Linked DNA regions of Homo sapiens: regions 1, 2 and 3 are each linked to region 4. Evidence: fine-mapped expression QTL. A gene starts in region 4. Each other region holds a variant in brackets. All regions are shown on one strand. Distances are between the middles of the regions. Region 1 holds the start of NRSN2 (neurensin 2). Region 2 holds the start of LOC124904854 (a long non-coding RNA gene). Region 3 overlaps RSPO4 (R-spondin 4). Region 4 holds the start of FAM110A (family with sequence similarity 110 member A).

The links. PIP is the estimated chance that this variant, and not a neighbour inherited with it, causes the effect.
Region 1: its variant is fine-mapped to the expression of FAM110A in monocytes after Pam3CSK4 (Quach 2016, PIP 0.95).
Region 2: its variant is fine-mapped to the expression of FAM110A in whole blood (INTERVAL, PIP above 0.99).
Region 3: its variant is fine-mapped to the expression of FAM110A in thyroid (GTEx, PIP above 0.99).

Annotation. Positions count from the first base shown.
Region 1 is chr20:342,629-350,730 of GRCh38, forward strand. It overlaps NRSN2 (neurensin 2), which reads left to right and starts at 4,483. Exons shown (of 5, transcript NM_001323682.2): 1 at 4,483-4,514; 2 at 4,806-4,884; 3 at 6,621-6,735; 4 at 7,010-7,204. The coding sequence starts at 7,016. LOC101929937 (serine/arginine repetitive matrix protein 2-like) reads right to left here and starts at 6,062. Exons shown (of 4, transcript XM_047440635.1): 1 at 6,045-6,062; 2 at 5,472-5,757; 3 at 4,791-5,386; 4 at 3,638-4,363. The coding sequence starts at 6,062. The coding sequence ends at 4,040. RefSeq lists enhancers at 3,255-4,018, 4,019-4,781, 4,782-5,544 and silencers at 4,351-4,770, 4,791-5,320, 5,501-5,590, 6,617-6,911. The variant G/GC (reference allele first, on the strand shown) is at 4,380.
Region 2 is chr20:863,931-872,032 of GRCh38, forward strand. It overlaps ANGPT4 (angiopoietin 4), which reads right to left. Exons shown (of 9, transcript NM_015985.4): 9 at 5,970-8,102. It overlaps LOC124904854 (a long non-coding RNA gene), which reads left to right and starts at 7,022. Exons shown (of 3, transcript XR_007067485.1): 1 at 7,022-7,105. The variant T/A (reference allele first, on the strand shown) is at 4,324.
Region 3 is chr20:954,653-962,741 of GRCh38, forward strand. RSPO4 (R-spondin 4) reads right to left here. Exons shown (of 5, transcript NM_001029871.4): 5 at 3,800-5,814. The coding sequence ends at 5,705. Among named protein-coding and RNA genes, the nearest start is that of ANGPT4, 42 kb to the left of the region's middle. The variant G/C (reference allele first, on the strand shown) is at 3,766.
Region 4 is chr20:829,317-837,418 of GRCh38, forward strand. It overlaps FAM110A (family with sequence similarity 110 member A), which reads left to right and starts at 4,399. Exons shown (of 2, transcript NM_001042353.3): 1 at 4,399-4,635. RefSeq lists a cis regulatory region at 1-180, a silencer at 4,650-4,799 and an enhancer at 6,316-6,415.

The sequences.
Region 1 (8,102 bases), 490 kb before region 4:
TTTTTTTGAGACAGAGTCTCACTCTTATCACCCAGGCTACGGTGCAGTGGCACGATCTTGGCTCACTGCAACCTCCGCCTCCCAGCTTCAAGTGATTCTCCTGCCTCAGCCTCCGGAGTAGCTGGGACTACAGGTGCATGCCACCACACCCGGCTGATTTTTGTATTTTTAGTAGAGACAGGGTTTCACCATGTTGGTCAGGCTGGTCTCAAACTCCTGACCTTGTGATCCACCTGCCTCAGCCTCCCAAAGTGCTGGGATTACAGGCATGAGCCACTGGGCCTGGCCCCACTGCCCTTTCTTACAGTAACAGTATTTCAATTTCCCTTTAGGGAAGCTCTTCAAGCAGGTTCTCAGTCCAAGAGGTTTCTCTGGGTTAAGCACTGCCAGCCACCCAAAGGGTGAGCAAGTAACCAGCCAATCAGAGACACTCCAGTGGGTTCAGTAAATGACATATTATCTAACTGGGGTGAGGGGAATCAACATCAGGGCTTTTCCTGAGACTATAAGGAGAAACAGATTCTTTTCCCAGCAGTTAAATTTGAAGTCTGTGGCCATTTTGCTACCATATAGGGAAAATCTGCCTGACATTGAAGCCAACACAGATGAGGGAAGAGCCAAGAGATAAAGAGAAAGATCCTGAGCATCTGGATACAGCCATGCCTGAAGCCAGTATCCCTTGACTTCTCAATTATGTGAGCCTTTATATTCCCTTTGTTTAAAGCCAGTTCAAGTTTAAAACTGCCATTTCCAGTGAGAACAATTCCCTATGTTGTATCTAAGGCCAAGACCTTGCCCCTGACTCTAGGCCAGAATGTCCTGTACAGTGCCATTCAACTCTGCCAAAAGCAAAGGGCATCAACTTCTCCACAACCTGGCTTTCCCTCATCTATTTTACATCTCTGTTAATGGGAGCATCACCCACCTGACCTATAAACATAAAAGTCAGCCTCTATCCTCTCTGTCTCTCTCCCTCTCTCTGTCTCTCTCTCTCTCTCTCAATCCCTGTCACTTCCCTTACTTCTTAGTAACCAAGTTCTGCCAACTTAACTTTATGGACATTTTTCACACCTGCACCCTCCTTTCCATTTTTCCTGCCCACTCCAATTCTTCATCATTTCTCACCTAAATTTTTACAAAATCAATAGATAACTAACATAGAGGTGTATAGTAAAAAGTGAATTTCGGCCGGGCACAGTGGCTCATGCCTGTAATCCCAGCACTTTGGGAGGCCGAGGCAGGCAGATCATGAGGTCAGGAGATAGAGACCATCCTGGCCAACATGGTGAAACCTCATCTGTACTAAAAATACAAAAAAAAATTAGCTGGGCATGGTGGCATGTGCTTGTAGTCCCAGCTACTGGGGAGGCTGAGGCAGGAGAATCGCTTGAACCCGGGAGGCGGAGGTTGCAGTGAGCTGAGATCGCACCACTGCCCTCCAGCCTGGTGACAGAGCGAGACTCCATCTCAAAAAAAAAAAAAAAAAGTGAATTTCATTCCCACCCTTGCCATCAGTTACCCTCCCCCAAGGCATCTACTGTTACCTCTTTCTTGTCTATTTTCCCAGAAGTTCTCTATATGTGCCATCTTTTTGAGAATTTCAAATGGAGGCATACTATCAAGACTTTTCAGAACACTGCATCCTTCTTCACTTGAAGTGTGATTAATATAAATAATTATAGACTAATTTCTTCTTTCTAATGGATGCATAGTATTCCACAAAGACATATAATGTACATAACTCGTCTTCCATTGATGGATATTTAAGTGGTGTCCCAGTTATCTGTTAGCACAGAACAAAACCCCCCAAACCTAGTGGTATAACACAATAACCACTTGAATATGCTTGTGGGTTCTGTGTGTCAGGAATTCAGGCAGGACACAGTGAGGCCAGCTTGTTTCTACTCTGCAATGTTTGAGTCTTCAGCTAGGAAGATTTGAAGATTTGAAGGCTGAAGCTGATTCAAATGGCTGGCCACTGGAATCATCTTGTTCTTCCCCTTCCCCTTCGCCTTCTACAGTGCAATGGCATGATGTCGGCTCACTGCAACCTCTGCCTCCCGGGTTCAAGCAATTCTCCTGCCTCATCCTCCCTAGTAGCTGGGATTACAGGTGCACGCCACCATGCCCGGCTATTTTTGTATTTTTAGTAGAGACGGGGTTTTGCCATGTGGCCAGGCTGGTCTCGAACTCCTGAACTCAGGGTATCCACCCGCCTTGGCCTCCCAAAGTGCTGGGATTACAGGTGTGAGCCACCGTGCCTGGCCTCATCTGGTTCTTCTTCACTCACTTCTTTTATGCTTGAACTGGGATGACTCAAAGCTAAGCTTAGCTGGGACTGTGGTGCCTTCATGTGTCCTCTCCTGATGGTCTTGGCATCCTGACAGCATGGCAGCCTCTAAGCAGACATGGAGCCCTAGGTAGGCATGGTGCCTCAGGCTCCAAGAGCTAGAGTTCTAGCAGAAGTTGCCTGTACTTTTATGTCTGGACCTTAGAAGTCAGAGTGTTACTTCCACCGTACTCCATTGGTTGAAGCAGTCATCAGCTCACCCAAGATTCAGAGAGGGTACAAGGATCCCACCTCTCTACAGAGGAGTGCTAAAGAATTTGTAGCTATATTTTAAAACCACCACAGGTTGTTTCCAATCTGTAGCTATTCCTGTAGTTCATTTTACAGGCTAACATCTCTTGAATGTCTTCATTTCTCTGCACCAGGCCAAGACACTGTCATCTCTGATCTCTTTGCTGATCTCTTGCTGTCACTCTTGTGCTCAACATGCTGTTCTCTTGACAGCAGCCAGAGGTCTTTTCAGAATGAAAATCAGATCACATCCCACCCCTCTTCATAACCCTTCCATGGCTCCCCACTACCCTTGGGCTGAAGCTCAAACTCCTTACCTTGGCTTATGAGGCCCCACAAGGTCTCACTTCTGCCTGCCTCTCCAATGCCATCTCCTGTCACCATTTGGGGCCTTTAGTTTTGAGCTGCAAGAGTTCCTCCCATCACACACACACACATACACACACACACACACACTTAAATGAGTAAGTAAATAGAACATACAAAACGCTTAAACACTTTGCACATAGTGAGCATAATAAGTTTGCTACTATTATTAGACTGTCTTCAGTAAATATTTACTGGGCTGCCTACTCAGTGCCAAGCACTATGGGAGGCTCACAGATACAACACGAACAAGAAATATGTGGCCTTGGCCAGACGCGGTGGCTCACGCTTACAATCCCAGCACTTTGGGAGGCCGAGGCAGGTGGATCACTTGAGCTCAGGAGTTCAAGACCAGCCTGGGCATCATGGCAAAACCCTGTCTCTATTAAAAATACAAAAAATTAGCTAGGCATGGTAGTGCGTGCCTGTAGTCCCAGCTCCTCAGGCGACTGAGGTGGGAGGATCACCTGAGCCTTGGGAGATCGAGGCTGCAGTGAGCCGTGATCATGCCACCGCACTCCAGCCTGGACAACAGAGTGAGACGCTGTCTCAAAAAAATAAAAATTAAAAAAAAAGAAAAAGAAAAACTAAAAAGGAAGATGTGGCCCTATCTTGCCGAGCTCATTCTTCTGTGTGTCCCCAGCCCCTAGCACAAGGAGAAACAGAATAGATGCTCAAGACACAAAGGCATGTCTGTGCAAGGGTGCTTGATGACGGTTGGAGGGGCACAATGACTTTCCCAAGATCACACAGCAAATGTGGGACAAAATCAAGGCTGACAGCTCATGACAGGGTGGGAGGCAGATGCAGCTGCCTGGCACAGGCTGGCTCTCCAGGGAGATGGGCAGTGGGCACGCATTGCCCAGGGCAGAACTGGGGCTAGGGGAGGAAACAACAAGGGAGGCTGTCATTAGCTCCTTCCAAAGTGGAGGTCACTTCTCTCCCAACCCCGAGTCCTCCACCCAAACTCCCTTCTCAAGGTACAAGGGCTGATCCCGTACCAGGGATGGGTAGGGACTCAAAGAGGAAAAGAGGATGAAAAGAGGATGGGGACTGAGTGAGATGTGAGGACTCCAGAGGGATTAGCGGCTCTCAAGGCAAGTGGGAGGGGACTTCCCGGTAGGAGCCCGGAGACAGATGGGAGCCTGTGAAGAGGGCGGGGGCCCGGCGAGGAGAAGCGGTTTCTACGCTGGGGTGGGGCTCCATGAGGGGGATGGAGACCTGGAAAAGGGACTGACGGTGCAGCGAGGAGAGGAAGGCTCGGTTAAGGGATGGGTCTTCCACGGGAGGGGTGGGGAACTGCGGGAGTGACGGCAGCTTCGGTGAGGAGTCTGAGGGGCTGCGTGAGGGGCTGGGGCCCAGGGAGTCCGAGGGGTCTCTGTGAGGGCGCTGGGGTGTCCGAGCGAGCAGGGAACTCTGGAAGGGGACAGGA[G/GC]CCGGGGGAGCTGCAGGCGGCCGCCGTCTGCAGAGCCAGGCCCTGAGGCGGGCCGGCGCCCCCTCCCCCGCCCCGAACTGCGGCGCAGGCGCGAACCGGACCCGCCTTTGCTCGGCGGAGACAGCAGGCAGAGAGGTGAGCTTAGCCCTGCCCCACGCGCGGCCAGGCCCCAGCCCCAGCCCCTGGAGAACCCCCGCGCTCTGCCCGCATCCTCAGCCCGGGCCGTGTCCCGCCAGGGCCGGGACCTTTGCGCCTGAGCCTCGGCTTTGGGAGGTGGGGGTCCCAGGGAAGCAGCAGGGGCGGGAGACAGAAACAGCCCCATCGCCCCTCGACGCCTCAGGGTTGATAGGCTGGGTAGAGGCTTCAAAGGACACCCCCACCCCCGCCAACACTTCAAAAACCCATTCCTACCCCTCTCTGCCTCAGTTTCTCTCTAGGGAAAAGGACGCAGTTGGTGTGGAGCAGGGCATCGGTGGTCCTGTCAGGAAGAGTGGCGCGGGTGCCGGTGGGGAAGGGAGGCGGGAAATGGCCTGATTTCCCCGGCCGACACCCCCTACCCATCCCCCCCGGGAGGGCGCCCCTTCTCCCCCGCCCGGGCAGCGCTGGACGCTGTAGTGGGCGAGTCTGAGGGTCTGGGAAGGACACAACTGAATGAGGCTGTGCAGAGGCGACAGATTCCGTCCATCTTCGGGCCCTGGCTTCCGTCACTTCCGCCCGTGCCTGCCGCCCCTCGCCTCCTCCCTCCGCCGCAGTCTCCCCACGTCGGACAGCGCAGCCCCCTCCGCCTCCCGCTCCCCTCCCACCGAGCTCCTCCCGGCTCCCGGGCTGGGGACGCCTCCCTAGCGGTTCCCATGGCAACCCTCGTCCCGGGTGCCTGCGCCCCGCCCCCCGCCCGCCAGACCTACTCCGTGCAGCCCTGAAACGCCAGGCGGAGGGGCCAGGCCGAGCGGGAGGCAGCGTCAAGGTCACCTTCCCTCTCCAGTAGCAGCAGGACTGAGTGATTCCATCTATTTGGAGTCGCGGAAGCGGTGAATTGGAGGGGAGGAGCTGACCCAGGTCAACAGCCCCGAAGCCCCCTCCACACCTCCTCACCTGTGGCCTTGAACAGTGGTCTCCGCACGGAGGCTCCTACCGTCCCCCAGGCCCCATTTCTTCTCCCCACCCGGGCCTCCCCAGCGCCTCGCCGGGGCGGGTACCGCGCTGGCCGCACCCTCCGCACAGCCCGCCCCGCCCGCCTCCTCCGGCGAGCCCTCCTCTCCAGACCTCTCGCCCTCCTCCTCCGACGGTCCTTCGCTTTCAGTCTCTGCCTTTTCCCGTTCTCTGTCGTGGCTTTTGTTGTTGTTGTTTTTCCTCCTTTCCTTCCCCGCTCTTCTTTTCCCTGAATTGTAAGTGAGGAGGGTGTACAGCCACTATTTATGGACAGGCTTTCTTGACAGCAATCTTGTGTGCCGTGTGACTCCAAGCAGAACCTCCAACCGTGTGTGTGTGTGTGTGTGTGTGTGTGTGTGTGTGTGTGTGTGTCGTACCTATCTGGGTATGTCTCTGTATGCTTTGTGAGTATGTCTGTGTGTTTCTCTGTGCTGTTTCGGTGAGTTTCTCTATGCAGGGATTTGAGGACCACATCTGATTGGAAGTGAGGGGCAGCTGTCAGGACCTTTATCTTACCCTTTGGAACAAGCACATTGTTTCATTTTGCAGGAGGCTGCTAATTAAGGCTGAGGGCCATCATGGAGACTGGGGTAGAAGCCCAGTCCTCCCCCAACACCTCCTGGCTTTGGTTCGGGCCAAACCTGTATATGGATATACAAGTACCTTCCATTCCCAAGATCCGTGTCCACTTTTGTGGAAAAAAAAAAAAAGGTTATTTGATAGGTTTCTCTGGAAATCTAACAGCCCTTAAGCCTAAGAGTCTTTAATCCTGAGGGACCCTGACTTTCACTTCCAATGGAGTCAAAATTCATTGGAATCTGGAGGCTTTCAGGGGCAGTCCTGGGGAGGACCTTTTTATAGCCTTGCAGCTTGGGAACTCCAGCCCAAGTGTCAGCCATGACAATTACCCCCAGGAGGGGGTCTGAAGGGGAGCGGAGGGTGAGGCTCTCTCATTCCAGATATGGAGACTAAAAAGTTCAAGATGGAAGTAATAGCAAAAAAATTACAGTACTAATCACAACAGCTACCATTTCTCAGCATTAGACACAGTAACTGTATGAAAGAAGTATGATTATTAGGTCTGTTTTACAGATGAGGAAACTGAGACCCAGAAAGGTGGAAGCACTTGTCTAAGGTCACGCCTCCAGGAAGCAGTGTGTCCACGACTCCAGTCCAAGTGGTCAGGCTCCAGAGCCCACAGTCCCAGGTACTGGGTGGCCTCCAGAGTAAACATGCACATTTATTGACACCTCCAATTGCCAGGCACTGGGCTAAGGCCTTCAGTGCATTGGCTCATTCGCAGTGTGCTTTGGGAAGGACAGGCTGGGATTCCAAAAGGCCAGACTGTGCTATGCGTGTAGGGTGTCTCGAGTGGGAGGAGAAGCGGGTGGGGCACAAAGATTTAGGGGGCTTATGAAGGTCACCATGAGCAGCTCCCACTAATCCCTCCCTCCGTCAGCTGCACCTTACCTGCTCCCCAGGGGTCCATGATGCCGAGCTGCAATCGTTCCTGCAGCTGCAGCCGCGGCCCCAGCGTGGAGGATGGCAAGTGGTATGGGGTCCGCTCCTACCTGCACCTCTTCTATGAGGACTGTGCAGGCACTGCTCTCAGCGACGACCCTGAGGGACCTCCGGTCCTGTGCCCCCGCCGGCCCTGGCCCTCACTGTGTTGGAAGGTAAGGCCAGATGAGCACCTCCCATGATTCCTCTGCCTTGATGGAGGAAATGAGTCTGAATTTGAGGCTCAGAGGAAAAAAGAAGAGATAGCGTAGTAGTTAGGAGTCTTGCACAGTCAAGCAACAGAAAACCCAATTCAAATGGGTTTAAATAATGAAGGGAGCCTTCATTGTATTTGTATTTACATACAAATTATTTACATAATTATTTACATATTTATTGTATGTAAATAATGGTGGCTCATGCCTGTAATCCCAGCACTTTGGGAGGCTGAGGTGGGCAGATCACCTGAGGTCTGGAGTTCAACACCTGCTCTGTCAGCATGGCGAAACCCTTTCTCTACTAAAAATACAAAAATGGACCGGGTGCGGTAGTTCACGCCTGTAATCCCAGCACTTTGGTAGGCGGAGGCTGAGGCTGGTGGATCTCGAGGTCAGGAGTTGGAGACCAGCCTGGCCAACATAGTGAAACCCTGTCTGTACTAAAAATACAAAAATTAGCTGGGTGTGGTGGCGGGCGCCTGTAATCCCGGCTACTCGGGAGGCTGAGGCAGGAGAATCACTTGAAACCAAAAGGTGGAGGTTGCAGTGAGCTGAGATCAATCCATTGCACTCCAGCCTGGGTGAAAGAGCGAAACTCCCTCTAAAAAAAAAAAAAAAAAAAAATGAGCCGGGCGTGGTGGCAGGCGCCTGTAATCCCAGTTACTTAGGAGGCTGAGGCAGGAGAATTGCTTGAACCCAGGAGGCAGAGGTTGCAGTGAGCCAAGTTTGCACCATTGCACTCCAGCTGGGCGACAGAACAAGACTCTGTCTCAAAAAAAAAAAAAAAAAAAAAAAAAAAAAAGAAAAAAGAAGGGAAAATGTTGCTCATTTTTTAGAAGAGACCCAAGGTCCAAGG
Region 2 (8,102 bases), 35 kb after region 4:
GAGTTGATAGCTCACTTCATGAATGCACACAAATAAGTAGTTTACCGTCAATGCCCTCCTAAGGGCCTAAGATCAACAGGAATGCACCTGTAGTTAAACAAGTGGTTCTATTACTCACTGGGACAAGAAAGTGCACAGCATGGGGAACCTTGGAATGTCTTAGTGAGAGTGTTAGAAAAGGCTTATTATAGGATTGGTCTCGTGTTAGGTGACTTGAATAGGGTTTGAGGATGTGGGGTTTTTCTTCAGATTGGATGCTCTCAGGAAGTGAGGGTAATTATGCAGTTGCGATCTTAACAAGTCTTGTCTATAGAGAAGGCAGACTCTGGCAAGGCTAATGCTGTCATTGGGAAAGAAGCAGCGGTCACTTGTATTAGCTGGGACTGAGGGGTGTTTGGTCATTTTCGTGGCTTGGAAATGTGCATGATTTGTCTTTGTTCAGACATGATTACAGAGTGTTCCACTTTTCGTCTTGATTCATCAATCACTGAGGACCTCATCTGATGTTGGTGTTCTGGGGAATCATTAACATTGGACAGGACATAAGCTGTTCTCTGTGCATGTTGGGCTGACTTGCAGCAACACCCAGTCCTAGCTGATGACTATCCAGGATGGCCCCTGGATGTCAGGGCTGCTTTCCTCTTTCTCAATTTCAGTCAACATTAGTGGGTCTGAGAGGATCCCTTCCTCCTTTTAAAGCTCTCCATATATTAAGTTGGAGCAACAAGCTCATTCCTGCTCAAACTGGGCAGGCATTTTTAGATTCTTTTCTGCTCCCAGAAGTTTTCCTTTCCCATTATTTGGTCTTGAGCTGGTCTCAGGAAGAAGTAATGAAGGTGAGAGATCTGCAGTGGGATCCTGGGAAAGGTGGCACATGTGGATCACTGAGGCCTGGGCTCGGATGGTGAGGATTTGAAGATTCCCAAAGGCCACACCTAAGGGTCACCAGAGGGTGTCCAGCCCCCATTATCCAGATGGGGGAACTGAGACCCAGGAGGGAAGGGCTCTGTGTTGGGTCCCAAGGTGTGCCATTCCAATTATCAACTGCCCTCCCTTACCTGACTGGCAGAGTCCCTTTCTTCCAGTTTGACGGAAAATACTGTTTGGCTCTTTTTTTGTGGGATGGAGTGTAGAAATTGGGGAAAAGAAGAAAATATAAAATCTTACATTAAGCATCCTAAGCCAATTCATGTGGTCGAAGAAGCAGAAAAGCAGCAGAAAAGCAGCAGAATGCGATGCCAAACACATCCTCTGTAGGCACGTGTGTTATACCAGGTTGCTGCGAGGGCCCAGAGGACACATCTGTTGTAGCTGAATAAGTTCCAGTGTTGAACCTCAGCACACACATGCGCATCTGGGCACCTGTGCACAGAGCTTGTATGCACAGAGCAGGAACACATGCATGCTACAAAAGGATCAAGAGTCAAACTCCAAACTGGCTGCCCTTATTGATAACTTCCAGCTGATGGAAGGTGGAAAGGCGAAGGTAGATGTGTTTTGGATATAAAAGGTCTGTCTTCTCTGTTTACTGTCTATGTGACCTTGAGCAAATTGATTGACCTCTCTAAGACTCAGTTTTCTGCAATATAATATGGTTCTCTTCTCTCAGAGTAAGGATGGAGTTCAGTGAGGAAACAGAAATGTAAGCATTGCATCATTCGGAATGCTCTGGGCTGCAAGTAACAGAACACCAACTCCACTGGCTTAAATGAAAAAGAAATTGATCATCTAGAGACAGGACTCAGGACCTCAATGATGTCAGTAAAGCTCCAGGCCCCTTCTGACCCTCCACTCAACCACTCACTCTCCCACCTCCCTGTCAGATTGGTCCCAAATGTGGTTCTCCTGGTGGTCCACACTGGAGTAGCATCCATGCTGTGTAGTGTCTTCTCCATCAACAGAAGAGAGAATCTTTGTTTTTCTTTTCTTTCTTCTTTCTTTTTTTTTTAGACAGAGTCTTGCTCTGTCTTCTAGGCTGGAGTGCAGTGGTGCGATCTCAGCTCACTATAACCTCTGCCTCCTGTATTCAAGCAATTCTTGTGCTTCAGTCTCCCAAGTAGCTGGGATTATGGGTGCCTGCCACCACTCCTGGCTGATTTTTGTATTTTTAGTAGAGACAGGGTTTCATCGTGTTGACCAGGCTGGTCTCAAACTCCTGACCTCAGGTGATCCACCCGCCTCAGCCTCCCAAAGTGCTGAGATTACAGGCATGAGCCACCACGCCCAGCCAGCAGAAGAGGTAACTTTTCTGTATCCCTGAAACGCTAAGTCTTCCTCTTTAGTATGAGTGAACTAATTGAAGTCACATGACCAGCCCTGGCAGTAGGAACCATGGCCAGGGGAATATCATGTGCTGACTGGCTGCAGTTTTGGTCCCTGAACACATCAGTGGCTGGGGGACCCCTTCAGACTAAAGGACCTAGCCCTGCAGCTGGGGACTGATATTAGGAAGGGAAAGGGAAAGGGCATGATTCATGTCCCTCACTGCTCAGGGTCTTGCTGTGTAGCATCTCTTCTGAGATGTGGGTCAGACAGGGTGTTGGCCATCGCTAGAAAGGACCCCTCCTACAAGGACAAGACTTGAACAGGGATCCTGAAGACTTCTGGGGTTTCTATCTAGAGTCCAAATGGGTCTCTAGAGTCAGCCTGTTGACAGGCTGAGTTGAGTGGCAGCATCTCTAGTGGATCTGGCTCTCTGCCTGTGACCACTTGTGTGCATGAGCAAGTGCCTCACAGACCTGCATGTGTACATGGAAGATGTATTTTTACCTCCATGTTTGCGTCTGTAGCAACAAGTATGAAATGCACATACATGTTCATGCACATGTCAATGTACGTGGCTACCACACAGTAGGTATACTGTACAGTGTAACCATACAGTGTTTCAAATATGCATATATGTTCATATATGTGCATATATGCAATATCTGGATAGATGTATATGGCATAATGGCATATTTATATATTAATAAATCAATCATTTTAGAGTATTAACTATATATGAGTTATATTATGCCTAAGATATATTAATAAAAACAATGTTTGTCAAGTACTTGCTATATGCCAGGTACTATTCTAAGCACATATGTTCTAAATTAATATATGTATTACTTTAAGGATACATAACCTAGTGTCTTTTTGGGGTCCATGGATGAAGTGTATCTTCACTCACCTTTAATTAAATTCGGTTGTTTCATTCTTCATTTGTGAATGTAGGGCATTCACAAATTCACAAATTCATTCTTTCAATTGTGAATGTAGGGCACAAGCCACAGTAGTGTCAGGAGTGCCTGGAACTTTGTCACCATTAGAAATCATAGCTATTTTTGTATCTTGTTATAATGATTATAGATATCTCAAAATATTAACAGTCATCATTTGTTTTGACCTACCACTGATCTTGTTATTTAATGTATTAGCAAAGAAGCATATATAGTACAATATCAAAACTGTGTTCTTTAAAAAAAAAAAAAGTATATATATATATATGTATATGTGTGTGTGTGTGTGTGTGTGTGTGTGTGTGTGTGTGTGTGTGTGATGAAGTCTTGCTATGTTGCCCAAGGTGGCCTTGACCCCCTGGGCTCAAGTGATCCTCTCACTTCAGCCTCCCAAGTAACTGGGACCCAGCTTAAAATATTTTGATGACAGTATATATATATTTTTTGAGACAGAGTCTCGCTCTGTCACCCAGGCTGGAGTGCAGTGGCACAATCTCAGTTCACTGCAAGCTCTGCCTCCTGGGTTCATGCCATTCTCCTGCCTCAGCCTCCCGAGTAGCTGGGACTACAGTTGCCCGCCACCATGCCTGGCTAACCTTTTTTTGTATTTTTACTAGAGACGGGGTTTCACCGTGTTAGCCAGGATGGTCTCGATCTCCTGACCTCGTGATCCGCCCGCCTCGGTCTCCTAAATTGCTGGGATTATAGGCGTGAGCCACCGCGCCCGGCCAATGACTGTGTTTTTAATATAATTTGTTTCATTCATAATCCAATGCATTTAATTTTATTTTAAGCATGTGAAGACACCATTCTGAGGAGGGGTCCATGGCTTCACCAGATGCCAAAGACGCCCATGCCACAGCAAAGAAAAATTCATTGATCAATCCTTCAATGACCCCATGAAGCAGCAGTGTTACCAGTTTGCTACAGAGGGGAACCTGAGGCACAGGGAGGTTGTGCAACTTGTTTAAGGTCACATAGATATCGAGTGGTTGTGCATTATTATATCTGTCAGTTGTTTTTATAGCCTATGGGCTGATGTGGGCTTGTCCTTTGTGTCACATCAGAAAGCAAGTCTGGTCAATTATTTTCTTTCTCAAGG[T/A]TAAGTGAGATCAAGAAAAATAATACACATATATTGCATGGATTATTTGTGGTCATCATTTGCTAATCCTTATACCTGTGCCATGTTGGATTAATTATTACAGCTTTGTGAGCTGCTTTATTAAGGAGGGGAAGTAGAGTGAACAAATCATGGCAAGTCACTTCACCTCATCTTCTCATTTAAGGATGCTGATACTGGTGTTGCCAAGGCGACGCTGTCAGCTTTCGGAAGCATCTTTAAATGGGAGAGGCGAAGGCCCACACAGATCGAGGCGGAGGAAAACTCAGAAAAAAGGCTCAAATCCCTCGGCCGCAGAGACAAACCATCCTGGTGGGGACCATCCCTCACCCCCCGCACATGGCCACTTTCTACCTCACCTGTGGTGGTTGTCTCTGGGGTGTACTCAGGGAACTCTCTCCCCAGTGTGGAAACTGCCTTTGCTGGGAACAACGCAGAGATCTCAGAAATGATGGATCCATCAAGTGCCAGTGGGAGAGACTGAGTGGTCTTGGAGGCCTTTCCAGGAAGTTCCTCCTGCCCTTGGTACACGAGTTTGGTGGTAGATGCCCAGATGCCCAGAGTGCTCTGGGAGAGGAAGGCAGCTCACAAATGCAAATGCGCTGGAGGTGGTGCTTGGCTGTGCTGCCTTGGATGAGACCCTTTCCCTCTCTGAGCCCTAATTTCTTTTTTCTTTTTCTTTTTCTTTTTTTTTTTTTTTTTTGAGACAGAGTCTGGTTCTATCGCCCAGGCTGGAGTGCAGTGACAAGATGTCGGCTCAGTGCAACCTCCGCCTCCCGGTTCAAGCAATTCTTCTGCCTCAGGCTCCTGAGGAGCTGGGGCTACAGGCATGTGTCACCATGCCCAGCTAGTTTTTGTATCTTTAGTAGAGATGGGGTTTCACCATGTTGCCCAGGGTGGTCTTGAACTTCTGAGCTCAGGCAACCCACCAGCCTTGGCCTCCCAAAGTGCTAGGATTACAGACTAGGAGCCACTGTGCCCGGTGCCTAATTTCTTCATCACTGAAATGGGAAGAAAACTAACCTGGTGCAGGGAGAGGTGACAAGTGTTTTCCATAGGAACCCGCAGATGCAGGTATCCTAGAGGCTGGCACCTATGAGCTGTGGCCCCCAGGAGACCCAGTCTAGGCTCGAGACCACACCAGCCGTGCCCTCTACAGTGCCTTGTGCTGCCCAGGATCCTCAGGTTGGTCTTGTCTGCAGCCATTGTGAGTCAGCCTCACTGTCAGAAGGGCTTTCAGAGGTTGCTAGGTGCTCTGTCCATGGGAAACTGAGGTTCAGAGAGGGCCAGGGGCTCTGATCCAATGGCAGAGCCAGACTGATAACAGGGTCTAATATTCCTGGGCAGGACACAGCTGTGCCCTTGATAGTCAGAGGCAATCTGGGATGAACTGGATCCTGGGGTCAGGACCTGGGGACAGGGAGGCCGAGAGAGGGCACAGAGGTGGAGAGAAGAGAGATGAGAGCCAGGGACAGGGAACGAGGGAAGGCTGCCTAGCATCCCTGTTTCCTGAAGTCATGACTTGGGTGTCACTGACCCCACTGCTGGTGCCAGGCATGATCATGAGACCGAGGTCTGGTCAAGCAGAGTAAGAGTGATAAGCATAGGGATGGACACAAGACCAATCCTGGCTGCAGAAAATCATTCCTTTACTGGAATCATGGAGACGAGGGAGCTCCCCGGGTCAGGGATGCTGAGCTGGGAGGACATGAGCCTGGGGCTGCCAGAGCCTTCTTGTGAGGAAAGATCCTGGCTGAGAATGAAGTCAACGGGGCAGATGGAGGGGCTGAGAGGTGGAGCTGACATCATTTGAGCCTCTGGATCTAACCTCACTTGCCTTTACCCTTAGACTTTCCAGTTATGTGAGTCAATTTATTCCTTAGGGCTAGAATTTCTATCCCTTATACCTGAGTCCTGGCATGGAAGAGGAAGGAAGGTAAGAAAGAAGGATGAATATTTAAGAACAGGTGTCTGAGGCTGGGTATGGTGGCTCATGCCTGTAATCCCAGCACTTTGGGAGGCTGAGGCAGGTGGATCACATGAGGCCAGGAGTTTGAGACCAGCCTGGCCAACATGGTGAAAACCCGTTTCTACTAAAAATACAAAAGTTTTCCGGGCGTGGTGGTAGGCGTCTGTAATCCCATTACTCAGGAGGCTGAGGTAGGAGAATCACTTGAACCAGGAGGCAGAGATTGCAGTGATCTGAGATCATGCCACTGCACTCCAGCCTGGGTGACAGAGTGAGACTCTGTCTCAAAAAAATAAAATAAAATTACATAAAGAACAGGTGTCTGAGGATAACTCAAATCAGCTTCCTGCCCCCTTATAAAATGGGAGTAGAGAGGGACTTGGGCCTTCAACCCACCCAGAGGAGTTCTGTCCCTGGGCCTCACAGCTTTGCCCTGTCTCCTCTCTAGCTTGCAGTCAGCCTAGAAACTACAATAGAAAAATAAATGATGTGGATACAAAAATAAAATGCCTTTTCCTCACCTGAGTGCAGGAGAAGGGGCGGCATGTGCTGGGGAATGCCTTCCTCACCCCATTCTCCTCTTTGAGGACAAACATTTATTAGGCACCTGCTTCATGCCAGGCTCTATTAAGAAGATGACATACATGGTCTCATTTCCTCCTTGCCATAGCCCAGCCAGGAAGGAATATTATCATCTCCATTTTACAGATGGGAAAACTGAGGCTTTGATGATGTGAAGATAACTGGTGCCTTGAGAGGCTGAGCCACTGGACCAAAGTGTCAGAGCTGGAGCAGGTTTGTCCGACTCCAAAGCCCTGCCCACCACACCACACTGCACACAGTAGAGGCTAAATAAAGGTCTGCTGGGCAAATGCTGCTTAAGGCGATTTGAGCTCTCTGGGCAGCAATCTGCCCCTAAAGATTTCCCATCATGCCTGAAATGCCACCATTAGCAACCATGTCCTTTGAGTCTTGAAGGGGAAGAGTGCTAATTCCCAGGAATGAGATCAAAGTCAGTCTGTGCTGGGTTTACTCAGGGATCGGCTGAGAGTGGGACTCAGGGCTGGGGCGAGCCAGGGGGATGAAGGGGTCCCATTCCCATTGGCTCAGTCTCATCCAGGAGAAAACCTTCTGAGGACAGAGGTGTATCCTGGCGGTAGGGCAGGTGGGCTCCTGGCTATGCCTGGGTGTTGGCTGATGACAACAGGGCAGACAGCATGACACAGTGATGGGGGCAGGTGACAGAGTAGCTGTGGATCCTTTCTGACTCCATCCTCTGAAAGAAGCTATGAGGGCCCTGGTCTCCCAAACTCAGGCAGAGGCCTTATCTCCTCCCCTGCAGCTCCCCACCTACCACCACAGAGGCAGCATCACTGCTGGATGGGGAAGGGAGGGAGGCTAGGGGTTAGGGCTTGGAGGCAGAGAGGATCTGGACTTGGAGACAGATGTCCTGCCTAACAGTCCCTGTAATTGAGCCTGGGGGAGTTGAGGTTACAGGGAGTCCTAAGGGAAGCCACCCAGGTAGAGATCAGCTTCCTGGGACTTGAAGGAGCCTTGGAGGACATGAGCCTATAACACAGACAGGGACCTAGTTCTAGACCCTTCTTCAGGGATGGTATCTGTTTTAACTGAAAGGTTATTTCCAGTTGTTTTTAGAGGTTGTTTGAGGCTGTCACTGTGGCCCTTGTAGCCAAAAAGGGTGAGTATAGCTGGGGTGGGGATGGGGTCGTAGGGCTCCTCCTTATGCCAGGGGAGCACTAGCTTTGTCCAAGAGCATCTACAGTCCTGTGAG
Region 3 (8,089 bases), 130 kb after region 4:
ACTGCACTCCAGCCTGGGCGACAGAGCGAGATTCCGTCTCAAAAAAAAAAAAAAAAAAAAAAAGAAGATGAGAAAACTGAGGCACAGGGAGAGATACAGGATCTTGCCTAAAGGCTCATAGCTGGCGTCACTGGCGGCGACGGGATTCGTGATCTTCTGTCTGCTCTTACCCACCTCACTTCCCTGCCTCCCACTCTAGGAGAGAGGTGCCACCATAAACCCCATTCCAGCTGTCCATTGCATGAAACAACCTCCTCAACCTCAGAGGCATAAACAAACAACCATTTTATCATGTTCCTGGGTTCTGTGGATCAGGAGTTCAGGCAGGATAAGGTGGACAGCTTCTCTCTGCTGGGCCTTCGATGGGAGGACTCTGTGGCTGGGAGGGTTCTGCAGTGGGGGGTAAGGAGGGGCAGCGGGTAAAACAGCAAGGACTAGAAGACCCACTTGCGAGAAGGCTTCTTCAGCTACAAGTCTGGCTGGAGGATCCATTCCACCTTGTGGATGGTAGGTTGGCTATGGCTATGGGTGAGGGTGGGAGTCATGGGGGGCTGAGTGGGAGCCATCAGACCCCAGGGCTGAGTCCACATGTTCCAGGATCTGACAGCTTAGGAGGCTTAGCAATTCCAGGGCTGGCGCCCCCATGAATAGCTTCTCCAGGATTTTGCAAGTGCTGTTTCCTCCCCCTCCCCACCCATCTCATTAACACCTCGCACTCTTTAATTCTCAGCTTGGCTATCTGGTCCTGGAGGAGGAGCTCCCTAACCCCTGTATGCCTTAGACAGGATATGCTAGATCCTGTCCTCATGGAAGGTCTTATCACATTGTTGGAATTGACTGTCTGCAGACTGAACGCTTGGAGGACAAGGCAGGGTCTTTATCACCAGCACCCAGGACAGTACCAGGCACACAGTAGGCACTTTATGCATATTCACGGAATGAATGAATGGGTGAGACTGATGGATTTTGAATGACTTGAACTTGAGCCTCAGTTTTTCCTCCTAGAAGTTAGCTGGCAACGTAGCTGTGAAGGTGGCAGGAGATAGGTGGGAAATGCGAGGTTAGTAAGAGGAATTGGTAGAAAAATGGTAGTTATGATTTATGCTGAAGAGAGAAAAGCAAAGGAAATTAGATATTGCACCTGAAATGCTTAGCTATGTTTGGTGCAGAATAGGTGCTCCATAAATATAAGATGACGTCATCATCCTCATCCTCATCATTACTATTATTTGTATTATAAGAATGCACATTTCCTGAGTTAGAAGGTCCACATACGATGGCTTGAAATTTTCCTCTGGGCTGGGTGCGGTCGCTCACACCTGTCATCCCAGTACTTTGGGAGACTGAGGCAGGAGGATCGCTTGAGCCCAGGAGTTCAAGACCAGTCTGGGCAACATAGCAAGACTCTTTCTCTACAGATAATTTTAAACATAGCTGGGTATTGTGGTGTGCATCTGTAGTCCCAGTTACTTGGGAGGCTGAGGTGGGAGGATCAACTGATCCCTGCAGGTCGAGGCTGCAGTGAGCCGGGATCATGTCACCGACCTCCAGTCTGGGCGATAGAGCTATTACCCATCTTAAAAAACAAACAAACAAAGACAGAAAAAAGAAATTTTCTTCCAAGCGAAAATGGAGAGGTGTAATCCCCATAGGTCACCTGGGCCAGATGTCTGGGCAGGAGGTCATGCTCTGAGTCAGATTTCCCTTCTGTGCAAGGAAGGACCTGGGACAGGGACCTCTGAGTCTGACACTCTCTGCACAGCTGAGAAGGCCATTCAGCTGAAGTCCCCATTGCAACTGTTGTCCTTCAGCCTGAGGCAGTCAGTCCTTCGGTCTGAGGCAGCCTGTCCCTTGCCCTCGGCTACCCTCCACCCTGCTCCAGTCCTGCTAGGAGAGAACCGCAACACGACCCCGTTTCAGAAATGCGCTCCTTGACAAGCCTGGCTGCGACCTGTTCCTGGTTGACTGCCGTCATCCGGTGGCAGCATGTGGGAATGACATGCAGGGCTGTGGTGAGGATGAGGATGGAGTGAGCGGGTGGGGGGAACTGCAGAGAGGGCCCTAGTGTGGCCCAGTTGGAAGCGGTGACAGGAAGAACCCACCAGGGATTCCTCAGCTCTGGCCAAGGGGTTGTTCTCTCCCTCTGGCATAGCATCCAGAAGGCCAATAGCAGCGGAACCTCCCCCTGGGCTCTGCCCAGACTGCCTCTCTTTGGCTGTGTGACCTCACCCTGTTTCTGAGCTTCTCTGTGAACTTCTCCAAGCTTGGCTTGTAAGAAGGGAGTGGGCGATGCCCACCTGACAGCAGAGTCTCCTTCCCAGAGAGGCCCCTCAATCCTCCAGAGAATGTGGGAGAGGCTGGGATTTGAAAGGATTGGAGCTGGGGGCAGGGAACGTCTGAGATGGAAAGGTTATAGGAGGGGCTTAGGCCCTGAAGAAATTTCATCCTGTAATTTGAAAATATTAAAAAACCACCACAGCCCCCAGCTGAGGACAGAGGACCAGGCCCCCCAAGAAGAAAGAACATGGCCAGGGAATTGCAGTACTGGAAACTTCTACCCTTATGTTGGTCTTTTAGAATTGTGAAAATTAGAACGTTCAGCATCCTAAAACTGGAATCTTAACAGAAAACACTATATAGTGTATGTATGTGTGTGTGTGTGTGTGTGTGTATATATATATATATTTATATATATATTTATTTATATAGGGGCTGGGTACAGTGGCTCATGCCTGTAATCCCAGCACTTTGGGAGGCTGAGGTGGGAGGATCATTTGAGGCCAGGAGTTCAAAACTAGCCTGGGTAACATATTGAGACCCCCATCTCTACAAAAAATAAAAAATTAGCTGGGTGTGGTGGTGTACACCTGTAGTCCCAGCTACTTGGGAGGCTGAGGCAAGAGGATTGCTTGAGGCCAGGAGTTTGAGGCTGCAGTGAGTTGTGATCGTACCACTGCACTCCAACCTGGGTGACAGATCAAGACCCTGCCAAAAAAAAAAAAAAATTAAAAAGATACACACACATACACACACACATACAGACTAAACTCTGTAGAATCAGATCATTGAGCCTTGAGGTCAGAATCAGAATTGCAGCTGCAAATCTAGACTCAGCCCTCTGAGCTGGAAGTCATCTGAGAGCCACCTCTCCCCTCAGCTTGTCCTGGAAAGAATGTTTGCTCTCACTGCCTGCTCCTAAACTTGTTTGCAATGAATAGATCTGGGGGAGGGCCCCAAAACCTGAATTTCTAAAAGGCTCCCCAGGGGATTCTGTTGTTGGGTCTTCCAGATTTCGGCAATAGATTTAATTTAGCCAGGCTTCCTCTTCATCACATTCATCACATGGGAAAACTGAGGCCCCGGAAGGGGAAGTGACTTGACCTGGACCCCATCAGATAGCTGGTGACAGGCTGGAGCTCCCACCTGTGCCTCCCAATGCCAAGGCCACTCTCACCAGCAGCCCAGGGTGTTTAGATGGCCCCGTGGGACTGTCAACCTCCTAGGTACCCCTGGTCCCTGAGACATCTGGTTCGTGAAACTGCGAGGTTCTGGGGATCGAGGTGTCACCCTCTTCTGCCTCTGGCTGAGTCTGCTTCTTGAGAGTAGCCTGGAGGGGCTGAGGGCCCCTCCTCTTTTATCAGCTCCCCCCAAGCTGAAACCCCACCCCAATCCCCAATACACTCTGACCCCTCTCAGCCCCAAGCATTCCTGTGAAAACCACTCCACATGTTTTAAATTCTGCTACTCCAAACTCAGCAGTATCAT[G/C]GTTTTGCAACACCCTCTTGATGCTCAAGAAGCATTTACAAGTTTCTTTTCCCTTTATTAAGAAAGTTTTAAAAAAAAGTTAGGGTCTTGAAACAATAACAACGGAGCATTTCAGAGGCACAAACGTTTGCAGAAGAGAAGCTGGTGGCCTGGCCAGGCGGAGGAGGGGGCTCTAGCTGTTCTCGGGGAGGTGAGAGCAGGGAAGTCAGAGAGAGGGTGGGCCTGCTGGGAGGGGGGGGTTCAGGCCAGGGCTCCCCAGCTGCCAGGTGGAGGGCAGGTCTGAGGGTGGGTGCTCTCTTGGGGTCGGGAATGTAATATTTCATCACCTAGAGCCTCTCCCCCAGCCTGCTGACCATCTTCCTTCCCCAGGCCACCCCTGGGCCCCTTGGAGCTCCGACTCTTGCTTCTCCTGCCCATTCCTGTCCCAGTCACGGAGCCCTACGTGTTCAGGCCAACCAGTCACGGCAAATACAAATCCCGTTTCTGAGGATTCCGGGGAGCAGAGCAGGAAGGGGGTGTTATGATGGCAGAAGGATAGGCAGTGAGGACAGACTTGCTTCCAAGCTGGGTCTGACCTGGAGACTCCTCCCAGCGTCGTTCCTGCCTAGGGCGAGGGGCGTCACAGCGAAGCACAGATGCTCAAGTCACTGGTGGTGGGTGTGGGCGAGTGTGGTGGTGGGTGTGGGGGAGTGTGGTGGTGGGTGTGGGGCAGTGTGGTGGTGGGTGTGGGCGAGTGCGGTGATGGGTGTGGGCAAGTGTGGGGGTGGGTGTCAGCGTGTGGGGGTGGGTGTCAGCGAGTGTGGTGGTGGGTGTGGACGAGTGCACGGATCTTCCCTTGCTCCCCACCCACAATTCCCTACATTTCCCCCCTCAAGTGACCCCCAAATTCTCCTCTCCACCGTGAATGTGCTGAGCAGAGCCATCAGGCAGAAGCAGAGCCTGAAGGCTTCCTGTGTGACCCTGGGCAAGCCCCTTCCTTCTCAGACCTGTTTCCCCACATGGGCAGGAAGCGCTGAGGTGGGGAACAGAGCTGCTGGATAATCTCAGCTTTCCTTTCCGTTTCAGTGGCCTCTTCTGGGCTGGGCAGGTGGATCCCCCAGCAGTGACAGCTCACCTGATCCGGCTTGGGAAAAAGGGGCATGGAACCCATGAGAGGGAGGCCTGTGGGGGAGTGCCGATGAGGGTGGCAGGCAGCTTGCAGAGGATGCCCTCCAGGGCTGGCTGCCCACCCAGAGGCCAGGTTGTGACCCTCCACGGCCAGCTGGGGGAGGTGTCCAAGCCAGGCCTCTGGAAGCCCTGGAGCCTTGTCCAGCCAGCTCCTCGGGGTGGCTGGTGGCTGAAGGCTGTGGAAATGGCCTCTGGGGACTGTCCAGAGAACCAGGTGCTCACAGCTCAGGGTCCTGGAGCCTCCCCCAGAGCAGAAGCAGGGCCTTCAGGATTCACCTGTGCTGTGTCCCAGCTTTGCCCTCTGGAAACCCTTTCTCTGCAAAGATGGGGTCAGGGAAAGGCCTGGGAAAAGATGTTTGCTTTCTTTAAGTTGTAGATAGAGAAAGCTGCAGGGGAGGGCACAGGCTCATGGTCCCTCTTAAAGTGTGTGTGAGAGGGAGACAAGAGGAGGGAGAGAGAGAAGGATGCGGTGAAGGACAGGAAGAAACACAGGAAGAAAGAAAAGGAAAGATAAAAGATAAGTGAGAAAGAAGAGGAAGGAAGGGAAGGAGGGAGGGAGAAAGGAGAGGAGAATGGAGGTGGAAGAAATAAAGGAAATAAAAAAGAAAAAGAAAGGGAAGGTAGACTGACAGAAAAATGATAGAAGGGTGGAAAGAAAGAGAGGACAAATGGAGAAGACAGAGGAGAAAGAGTAAGAGGAGAGGAGGAGAAGGAGCAGGAGGAGGTGTGCAGGGGCCGAGGACTAGGACCAGAGAGTCGGGAGAGCCGGCGGTCAGGGCTGCAGGCCGGGCTGGCGCGGCCTCACGTCCAGCCTGCGGTCCAGCTTCCTGTCCTTGCGTGGGCGCCGGTCCTTCCTGCCCTTCTTCTGGCCGGGGCTCCTCTCTGCAATGAGAGGACAGAGCCCGGTGACCAAGGCTGCAGGGCCAGTTAGGTCCTGGGAGCCTCCTCAGTCCTGAAAGACAAGGGTGCCCCACCCACTCCCCAACAACGGGGCTCAGAACATTTGGGCACTGACCTTGCAGTCCCTCCTGTTGAGAGTTTGGACCGTGGGCTAAGGTACCCCAAACTGAACCTTTCTCTCTAGGTCTTCAGGGAGTGGCGAGGGCCACTAACTTGTTCAGGGCCTTCTTGTGCTGGACATCTGGCTCGGCCAGGCCTGCAGGTTCACCTGGGGCCCCCCAATCAGCATGTCGGGTGGCCTCATGGGAGTCCCCATGGCTTTCCCCGGCACACTCCTTCCATAGCTGAGCAGGCTCTGTGCTGGACGCTGGACACCTTTCATCTGTGTCCCTGCACCAACTTCTGCATAACACTGTGGCAACAATACTTCAGCATTTAGCAAGCGCTCACTGTATGCAGGCCACAGCCCCAAGTGCTTTATGTATACGAAACTCACAACAGCCGAGAGAGGCAGGTAGGGTCTGAGCCACACCCAGTCCCGTCTTCTCCAATTGTCCTCTCTTTCTCTCCACCCTTCTATCATTTTTCTGTGCCAGGCTACCTTTCCTTTCTTTTTCTTCTTTATTTCCTTTATTCCTTCCACCTCCACTCTGGCTGTGCCCGCTGCCCAGGGAGTTCTTCTGAGCAGTTGCCTGTCATTGTTATGGACAGGTGAGAAGACCACAGCATGGTTGGGAGCAAGGCCAGCCCTAAGTTTCTGCTTTACAAAGTGTCTCCACACCCAGGACATTCTCCTACATTGCTTGGGCCCCATTCAGTTCCCCGCAAGGAGCTGTGTGTCCATTTGAACACGATGAACCTGAGGCTCCATGAGTCACTTTCTGAAGGTGCGCAGCGAGGCTGTTAGAGACCCTCTGAGCCTAGTGGCAAGGGGAGGGCAGTTTTATTCCTTGGGTGTCAACTATGTGCCCGTCTCCCCAAGAGTCAGGGCTGTGGCTCCAGTCCTGGCTCCTTCCTCTGCAGAGCAGAGTCAAGGAGCTAAGACCAGGCTACCCACCTCTGGGGCTCCCCACGCCCACTCTGAGCTCTTGGGGAGCACTGAGGCCAACTCCCACTCTGAGCTGCAGAGCTGACTGTGCAGGCCTCAGGTAGGACAGCATCTGGAGATGGGGTGTGGGTGCTGCCTGAGTGGCCCTGCCGGCTCTGATGTGGGGGTGTGGGGGCCAGTGGCTTTGTGTCCCTACCCCTTCCCTAGGCCTGCCTGCCAGCTGCTCATGTACCCATCCAGTCACCCACCCATCCCTCCACCTATTTACCCACCTACACACTCACCCACCTATTCACCCATCTACTCACCCACCTCCATACCCAATGACCCATCCATCCACCTAGGCACCCACCCATCACCTATCCATCCACCTGTTCACCTATCTACCTACCTACCCACCCACCTAATCATCCACCTACCTACTCATCCACCCACCTACCCTCCCATCTACCCTCCTATCCACCCATCTACCTACCCACTCACCCACCTGTGCATTCAGCCATCCATCCACTCATCCAACAAATATTAACTGGATACCGACTATGTGCCAGACTGTGTTAGAGGCACTAGAGAGACAGCTGTGAACAAGGCAGATAAAGCCCTTGCCGTCACTGGAGATCACACTCCAGTAAGGAAAACAGACGCTGAACAAGCAAACACGAGAATGAGAAGGCTCATTTCAGAAGGGTGCAAGTGCTACCATGTGATATGATGGAAAATGACTCCGGGGAGGGGGACTCCTGGGAAGCCTCTCTGAGGAGGAGCCACTGCAGCCAAGACCTGGGTGATGCAGGGAGCTACAGCGGGGTTGTTGCGAGGATTAGAGTCATGTTTCACAGCACTAAGCACAGCCAGCACATGGTAGATGCTTTATGAATGTTTGCAGTTATTGTGATTATTATTATCCAGGGGAAAAGCTTTCCCCTCATGATTCCCCAACAGCCATTCACCCCCAGCTCTTGGAGCCATGAGAGGTGCCATGTGGTAATGAGTGCAGAAGAACTGTCTGCCTCCTGTGTGAGTCCTGCTCTGGCTCTGGGGTCTCTTAGGTTCTCTGGTTCCACCTCAACCTCACTCTGTCCTCACCTGCCCAACATGACTCCCAAAGGCTCCTATCTCTGCTAGCTGCACTCCCAACCCAAATAGCACAAGTCCTTCTGAAAGAGGAGTGTCCCTGAGTTCAAATCCTGGCTCCACTATGTCCCAGCT
Region 4 (8,102 bases):
TGGTGGGGGAGGAGAAGGACTGGGAGGACTTGAATACTCTGAATTGGCACCAGGTGCTTAATATAGTCCTGAAAATAGAAGACCAATATGCTGTTGGCACATAAAGATGCCCACAATTCTAGAATCTGAGTGCGCCCAGATGATCTCTCTTTACATGGCCTAATTTGGGATCCTGACAAGTTCCTTCTGCCCTCTGCCTCACTTTCTCAATCTAGGAATGGGCCTCTCGGTTTTTGTTTTGTCTAATTTTAAGCTCTCGGCTGTGCATGGCAGAGGCAAACTTGAAGACGCAAGGGTCAGTGAGCAGGGCCTTTATCCAGGTATCTCAAATATCTCCCAACCCTGATTAAAGTTACATATCTCAGAGAAGAATTTGGTCAACACCATTGTTGTCATTCCTGGTTAATAACAGGGAAGTTGAGGTCTGGGAAGCACCCTAGTGATGTGTTCACATGGCCATGTGCTTCTGTAAAATTTACCAATGTAAGGCATCTTAACCTCATTCTGTTAAAACCACTATCTCCTTTCATTCCAACTTCCCTTTGCATCAGATGATGTTGGGGTTGGTGTGAGCAGTTTGGGCATCTTGCTAAAAGGACCTTAACATTTACTTTGGGTTTAGTGGGATATATTTATATTGTTTCCAGTCACTTTTGTGAAAAATTATTACTAACTGACCTGGTATTGAAATGGCTTCCAGGAATATATCCATACCGAGCATACTGAGCTGACTCAACTTGTCGTGGCATCAAGATTCAGGATCAGAGGTTATATCTCAAGATATATGAATGGTCCTACAGCACTCAGTTCCACAAGACTGTGAAGGAGAGGTTTGAATGTATACACGGAGCCAGCAGCTAGTTTATGGAAAGTATTACAGATGTGTTTGAGACAGGCAGCTAATAAAAAGAATGTTATTTTTCTGCGTTTTGTAACGTTTGTGCAATTTCTCTTTTTTTTTTTTTTTTTTTTGGAGACAAGGTCTTGCTCTGTCATCTAGGCTGGAATGCAGTGGTGAAATCATGGCTTACTGCAGCCTCAACCTCCTGGTCTCAAGCAATCCTCCCTCTCAGCCTCCTGAGTAGCTGGGACTATAGGCACGTGCCACCATGCCTGACTAATTTCTTTTTTCCTTTTTTTTTTTTTTTTTTGAGACGGAGTCTCACTGTCGTCCAGCTTGGAGTGCAGTGGCACAATCTTGACTCACTGCAACCTCTGCCTCCCAGATTCAAGTGATTCTCCTGGCTGAGCCTCCCAAGTAGCTGGGATTACAGGTGCCCACTACCACGTCCAGCTAATTTTTTGTATTTTTAGTAGAGATGAGGTTCTGCCATGTTGTCTAGATTGGTCTCAAACTCCTGAGCTCAGGTGATCCACCAGCCTCGGCCTCCCAAAGTGCTAGGATTACAGGTATGAGCCACCATGCCTGGCCAGCTAATTTCTTTTTAAAATTTTTTTGTAGAGCTGGGGATCTCGCTTTGTTGCCCAGGCTGGTCTGAAGCCCCTGGGCTCAGGCACTCCTTCCACCTCGACCTCCCAAAGTGGTGGGATTACAGGCATGAGCCACCTTATTGTGGTTTCTTGTCTCTTTCTAACCAAATCTTCACTTTATTACTTAATTTCATATCTGTAATTTTTTCTTAAAGAGGTCTCCCTAGGGCTGGACGTGGTGGCTCACGCCTGTAATCCCAGCACTTTGGGAGGCCGAGGTGGGTGGATCGCCTGAGGTCAGGAGTTCAAGACCAGCCTGACCAACATACTGAAACCCTGTCTCTACTAAAAATACAAAAAATTAGCGGGTATGGTGGCGGGCACCTGTAATCCCAGCTACTCAGGAGGCTAAGACAGGAAAATCACTTGAACTTGGGAGGCAGAGGTTGCAGGGAGCTGAGATCGTGCCATTGCATTCCAGCCTGGGCGATAAGAGTGAAACTCTGTCTCAAAAAAAAAAAAAAAAAAAAAAAAAGAAGTCTCCCTAGGCTGAAGCTACCTGCTCAATCTTCTCTTGTGTCTTATAGGATCACAGGATCCCCCTTGCCTTACCTCACTGTTACTCCCAAACAGTTCTCACATGTTTACAAGGGAATGTAACAGAGTGGATCAGAGAATTCATTCTGGATCCAGACCGACCTTAGTTTTCTCATCTATATAATGGGAATAATAGCAGGATCTCTCGCCTTAGATAGTCATGAAGTCCAATGAGATGATGTGTATAAAGCCCTAACACAATGTAGCAGAGGGCACAGGGCCAGGATTGATATTTAGCTGGTCCTCACGGATACAGCAGACTCCCTGTTTATGACAGTGGTTGGCTCTGATTTGGTTGGTGTCCATGCCAGAGTGTACAATCATTATTAGCTATTGATATATTATTAGCTCCCTCCCCTGCCCACCCAGGGGTTTACGCAGTAAGTTCTCAATTATTGGCAATCCAAACAAAGAATAAAAGACACCAGCTGGAATGAAACAGAGAAGCTGGTTCCAAATTGAGCAATTCAGACTGACTGCTATAAAATTTCCTCACCTTAAAGGCCCTTAGAGTTAATTCATTCTAATCCCCCTAAAAATATACTTTTTTGACATGTTCAAGTATTGGAAATTTGGAAAATTCACAAAAACACAAAGAAGAAATTAACTGCTGTGATTATAGATGATTATACACATATACATATGTATTTAATACATATTTATGCTGTACATAGTGTTTTGAAGCATACTGTACTTCAAAAAAATTTGGGAGGGGTGCATTGGCTTATGCCTGTAATCCTAGAAATTCAGGAGGCCAAAGCAGGAGGATCACTTGAGGCCAGGAGTTCTAGACTGGCCTGGGGCAACATAGCGAGACCCGTAGCTTGACATGGTGATGCGGGCCTGTAGTCTTAGTTACTCTGGAGGCTGAGGTGTGAGGATTGCTTCAACCTAGGTTACAGTGAGCTATGATTGCACCACTGCACTCCACCCTGGGCAACAGAGCTAGACCCTGTCTCTAAAAAACATAAATAAACCAATGTTTAATACTTAGCATTTCCCCCTATCTTTAAATATCTTCTAGCTACTTCACTTTTATTTTTATCTTTTTGAGATGATCTCTTGCCCAGGTTGGGGTGCAGTGGCATGATCTCAGCTTACTGCATCCCCCACATCCCAGGTTCAATCTATTCTCCTGCCTCAGCCTCCTGAGTAGCTGGGATTACAGGCATGTGGCACCACGCCTGGCTAATTTTTGTATTTTTAGTAGAGACGAGGTTTCACCACGTTGGCCAGGCTGGTCTTGAACTCCTGACTTCAGGTGATCTGGTCGCCTCAGCCTCCCAAAGTGCTGGGATTACAGGTGTGAGCCACTGCTCCTGGTAGCTACTTCACTTTTAATGGCTGCATAATATTCCTCATCAGAAAGTGGGAAAAATTAGGCTAGGTGGCGTGGCTCATGCCTGTAATCCTAGTACTTTGGGAGGCTGAGTTGGTAGAATTGCTAGAGCTCAGGAGTTTAAGATCAGTCTGGGCAACATGGCAAAACCCCATCCCTACAAAAAATACAGAAAATACCGGGTGTGGTGGTGCACACCTGTAGTCCCAGCTACTTGGGAGGCTGAGGTGGGAAGATTGCTTGACCCCAGGAGATTGAGGCTGCTGTGAGCTGAGATCCTGCCACTGCACTCCAGCCTGGGCGACAGAGTGAGACTCCATCTCAAAAAAAAAAAAAAAAAAAGAAAAGAAAAAGATAAAGAAATAAATAAAGTGTTAATAATTAAAAGTACTTTTAGAGGGTTATGTCATAAGCCTTGACAAGACTTGTTCTGTAAAGCTACCCGGCATGCAAAAAGCTCAATTAAGTTAGCTCCTCCACAGGATGGAATTATATAACCAATCCCTTTCAAGAGGCATTGAAGTTGTTTCCATTATTTTGCTATGATGAATAAGGCTGAGCAATATTAATCTTTGCTCATATCTTTGGTCATTTCCTTTGTAAATTTCGGGACTGCTGGGTATGCACATTTTAAAATTAACTCACTCATCATCATGCAGTTAGGAGAACAGAGAAAGGAAGGGGCTTGCACCGGGTCACATAGGGAGTTAGCGTCAAAGTCAGGACTAGGAACCAGCCAGGGCCCTCTAACTGGAGCTCTTCCAGCTGGGGTCCTAGAGGAAGTCCCAGCTGGCCGCGGGAGGGAGGAGGAGGAAGGGAAAGAACCAGGCGCCGGGGCTGAAGCGGCGGCAGGAAGAAGGTGGGGCCGGCTGGGAGGAGCGGGCGGAGCTGCTGAGCAGCGCCTCTCCTTCGGGCGGGGGAAGCTAAGCGGTCGCCTGGCAACCCTGGCGGCGCGCCGTTCGAACGGAAGCGAGGAACCAATCAGGAAGTCCGGGGCGAACCATTCTGGTGTGAAGGGGGGCGGCGTGCTCACTTCCCCTTCCACGGCGCCCCAGGGACTTTCCCTGCGGTGGGGGCCTTCGACAGTGAGGGCCACCCGCTCAGCTCGACCGCGGAGGGCAGCTCCAAAGGGGACCCCAAAGGTGCCCACGCGGGGCTGGGGCCTCCTGGGCGTCGTTGGGAGCGGCCACTACCGGCCCGGGTCCGAGCTGTCAGCCTCTCCAAAGCCTGCGCGAGAGGAGCCGGGACACGCCTAGCGCGGGCTCCAGGTGAGGGCGCGGGTGGGTCCGGGTGCGACCCCGGGTCTGGGGGCCCCGTTCCCCGAGCGTCTGCTGTCTGCTTTCTCCCCGCGTCGTACCTGCGTGTCATTTCACAGATGAGGACTCTGAGGCTCAGAGAGGCAAGTGTCCCGGCCCGGCGAGCTCTGGCGGAGAATCCAGTTCAAGTCTTTCTGCCCCACCTCGCAGCCCCCTAGTCTAGTCACATCTGGACTTGCCTTGAGAGGCCCAGACGGGCAACTGGTAGTCATTTTCCCAGCGTTTTATCGGCAGGGACCTGTAGACCCCTGGCTGGATCACATATCCCCGCGCCCCACACTGTCCTCGGGATACCCCCTTTGGGCGTCTGTCTTTCCTTCTCCGCAGTCCGGGGTTGGACTCGGCTCATTTGGCGCCTTTCTGTCTACGGGGACAGAGGACCACTCTTTGGGGATCGGACGGGACTGACATTTCTGGGCTGGATGCAGGGGCAGCAGATTCTCCAGCCCCCAGAGCCGCTGCTGGCCTCTTGGGAATCATCCCCAGTTTGGGGAAGGGAATAGAGCCAGTCCCTAAACCAAAGCCACTAGTCACCAGAGACTTTGGAATTGGGAGTGGGGCCGGAATCCCCCCAGGTGGAGCAGCTGACCTAGGCCAGACCCTGCTGTGTCTCCTGGGGACACCCCCTGCCCCCTAGGTTGCTATTGTCAGTCTCCTTTTGTAGGTGGGGAAACGGAGGTTCTAAGAAGTTAAGCCCCTTTTCGAAGTCACAGTCAGACAATGCAGTGGTTAGCTCCTAGTCCCTCTGGCTTCAATCTTAGAATCCTTGACACACAGAATCATGCATTTTGAGAGTCTTCAATCTCTTCATAAGGGAGTTACATATCCTCTCTCCTCTGGAGCCTGCCCCTGGCTTTGGGGGACAGGATCTCCGAGGACTCAGAAAGAAAACAAGGCTTTCTTTTATTCTTTCAACAAATATTATTTATTGACTTCATAAGCCCTGCTCTGGTTCTTGCATGTTTTGGTTTTTTTACTTATTAGCAAATGTATCATCTTCTCCCACTGTGATGCAAGGCAGGGGCTGAGGCAATTGAGCCAGTGCAAAATTTAGGGATGCCCAAAACCTCAGTAATCAAGACTGAAACTAACGTTCATGGACCATTTGTGTGTTCTGCAGGCAGGAGGTTAACTCACACAGCCTTCATGAAGTGCAGTCCTCCCATCTCTCTCTCTCTCTCTCTCTCTCTCTCTCTCTCTCTATATATATATATACACACACACATATATACACACACACATATATGTATATATATGTATGTGTGTATATATGTATATATGTGTATATATATGCATATTTATAAATCATGAAACCACTGCCCTGTCCCTGAGTTGCTCTGTGACATTGAGTAAGTTTCTTCAGTCTCTGGGCTGAGCTAAGAAGTCATGATGGTGCACTCAGGCCTGGGCAGAGGGCAGTCTAGGATAGGAAGTGGGCTTGGCTGTGGATCTGCCTCCCCCTCCCCTTTCTAATCCTGCGTGCCAGGCCCTTCCCCAAGACCTTGCATGTGTTATCTTCCATTCTGTCCTCACTGCAAAATCCTTCATCCCCATTTTGCAACCTCAAGTGCAGACCTAGGCCTAGAAGATCAACTTGGTATCAGTGGGCCTAGATGTCCACATCCACACCCATTCCACAGCCTACTCCCTTCTCCCTTCCTAATGTTAGTGCAAGGCCACCCTGAGCAAGGCTGACTCCTGGGCAGGCCAGGGCACCAGCGTCTGGGAGGCCTCCAGAAATAGCTCAGGGCCTGGTGTGGCTCTGGAGGTGGCCCAGCTGGGTGTCCCTGACCTGGACAGCTGGGCTGAAATTGAGCTGGGGCTGCCCTGCTGGCTGGCCCCTTGCCACTGCCTGGAGCCTTCCCAATCTCCTCTGGGGCAGGCAAGGGCCTCCCCAAATCTAGGCCAGGCTTCTGCTGAAGGGAAAGAAAGAAGCAGGTGGGAGGAAGGGGGCGGGTTGGGTGTAGAATGTCATGAAAATTATAACCTTTGGAAACCACACCTCCCACCCCCTCACCAAAGAATAAAAATCACTAACACCTCTTGAGCATTTACTATGTTCTAAGTACTTTACAAGTATGAACTCATTTAATTCCCTCAACTCTGTGATATAAGGTAATTACTGCTGTTCTTATTTCCATCTTGCAGAGGGGAAACTGAGCACAAGAGAGGTTTAATAATTTGCATAAGATAACCTAGAGGTGGAGTTTGAACCCAGAGAGTCTGGCTCTAAATTTTACATTTTTTGGGGGGGGGGGTGGGGTGGGGCAGTGAATGAATTAAAATGTATATAAAATAAAATTTACCATTGTAACCACTTTTAAGTATACAGTTCAGTGGCATTAAGTACATTCCCCATTGCCTCTCCCCCCAGTGCCTGGCAATCACCATTCTACTTTCTGTTTGAGTGAATTTGACTACTTTGGGTACCTCTAGGTATTATAAATGGAATCATAACAGTATTTGTCTTGTTGTGTCTGGCTTATTTCACTTAGCATAATGCCTTTAAGTTTCACCCATGTTGTTGTATGTGTTAGAATTTTCTTTTTTATGGCGGAATAATCTATTCTAATATTCTATGTATATGCCACATTCTGTTTATCCATTCATTCCTTGATGGACACTTGGATTGCTTTTGGCTGTTGTGACTAATGCTGCTTTGAGCATGAATGTACAAATATCTGTTTGAGTTCCTGTTTTTAATTGTTTTGGGTATACACTCAGAAGTGGAATTGCTGGGTGATCCTATGGCAATTCTGTTTAATTTTTTGAGGAACTACTTTACTGTGTTTCACAGTGACTGCACCATTTTATGTGTCCATCAGCAGTGCACAAAGTGCTAATTTCTCAACATCTTCACCAACACTTGTTATTTTCTGTTTGTATTTTTTTTTTGGTAATGGCCATCTTCAGGGGTGTGATGTGGTGTCTCATTGTGGTTTTAATTTACATTTCCCTAATGACTAATGGTGTTGAGCATCTTTTCCTGTGCCTGTTGGCCATTTGTTATCTTTGGAGAAATGTCTGTTCAAGTGACTCTGCATTGTTTTTTTTTTTTTTTTTTTTTTTTGAGACAAGAGTTTCGCTCTGTCGCCCAGGCTGGAGTGCAGTGGCGCCATCTCGGCTCACTGCAACCTCTGTGTCCCGGGTTCAAATGATTCTCCTGCTTCAGCCTCCTGAGTAGCTGGGATTATAGGCCCCCGCCACCATGCTGGGCTAATTTTTATATTTTTAGTAGAGACGGGGTTTCATCATCTTGGCCAGTCTGGTCTTGAACTCCTGACCTTGTGAACCACCTGCCTCAGCCTCCAAAGTGCTGGGATTACAGGCTTGAGCCACTGCACCCAGTCATGACTCTGCATTCTTAACCATTACCTGTGCTTCTCTTAGATTTGTAACCTCTGAGAATAGTGGATCAG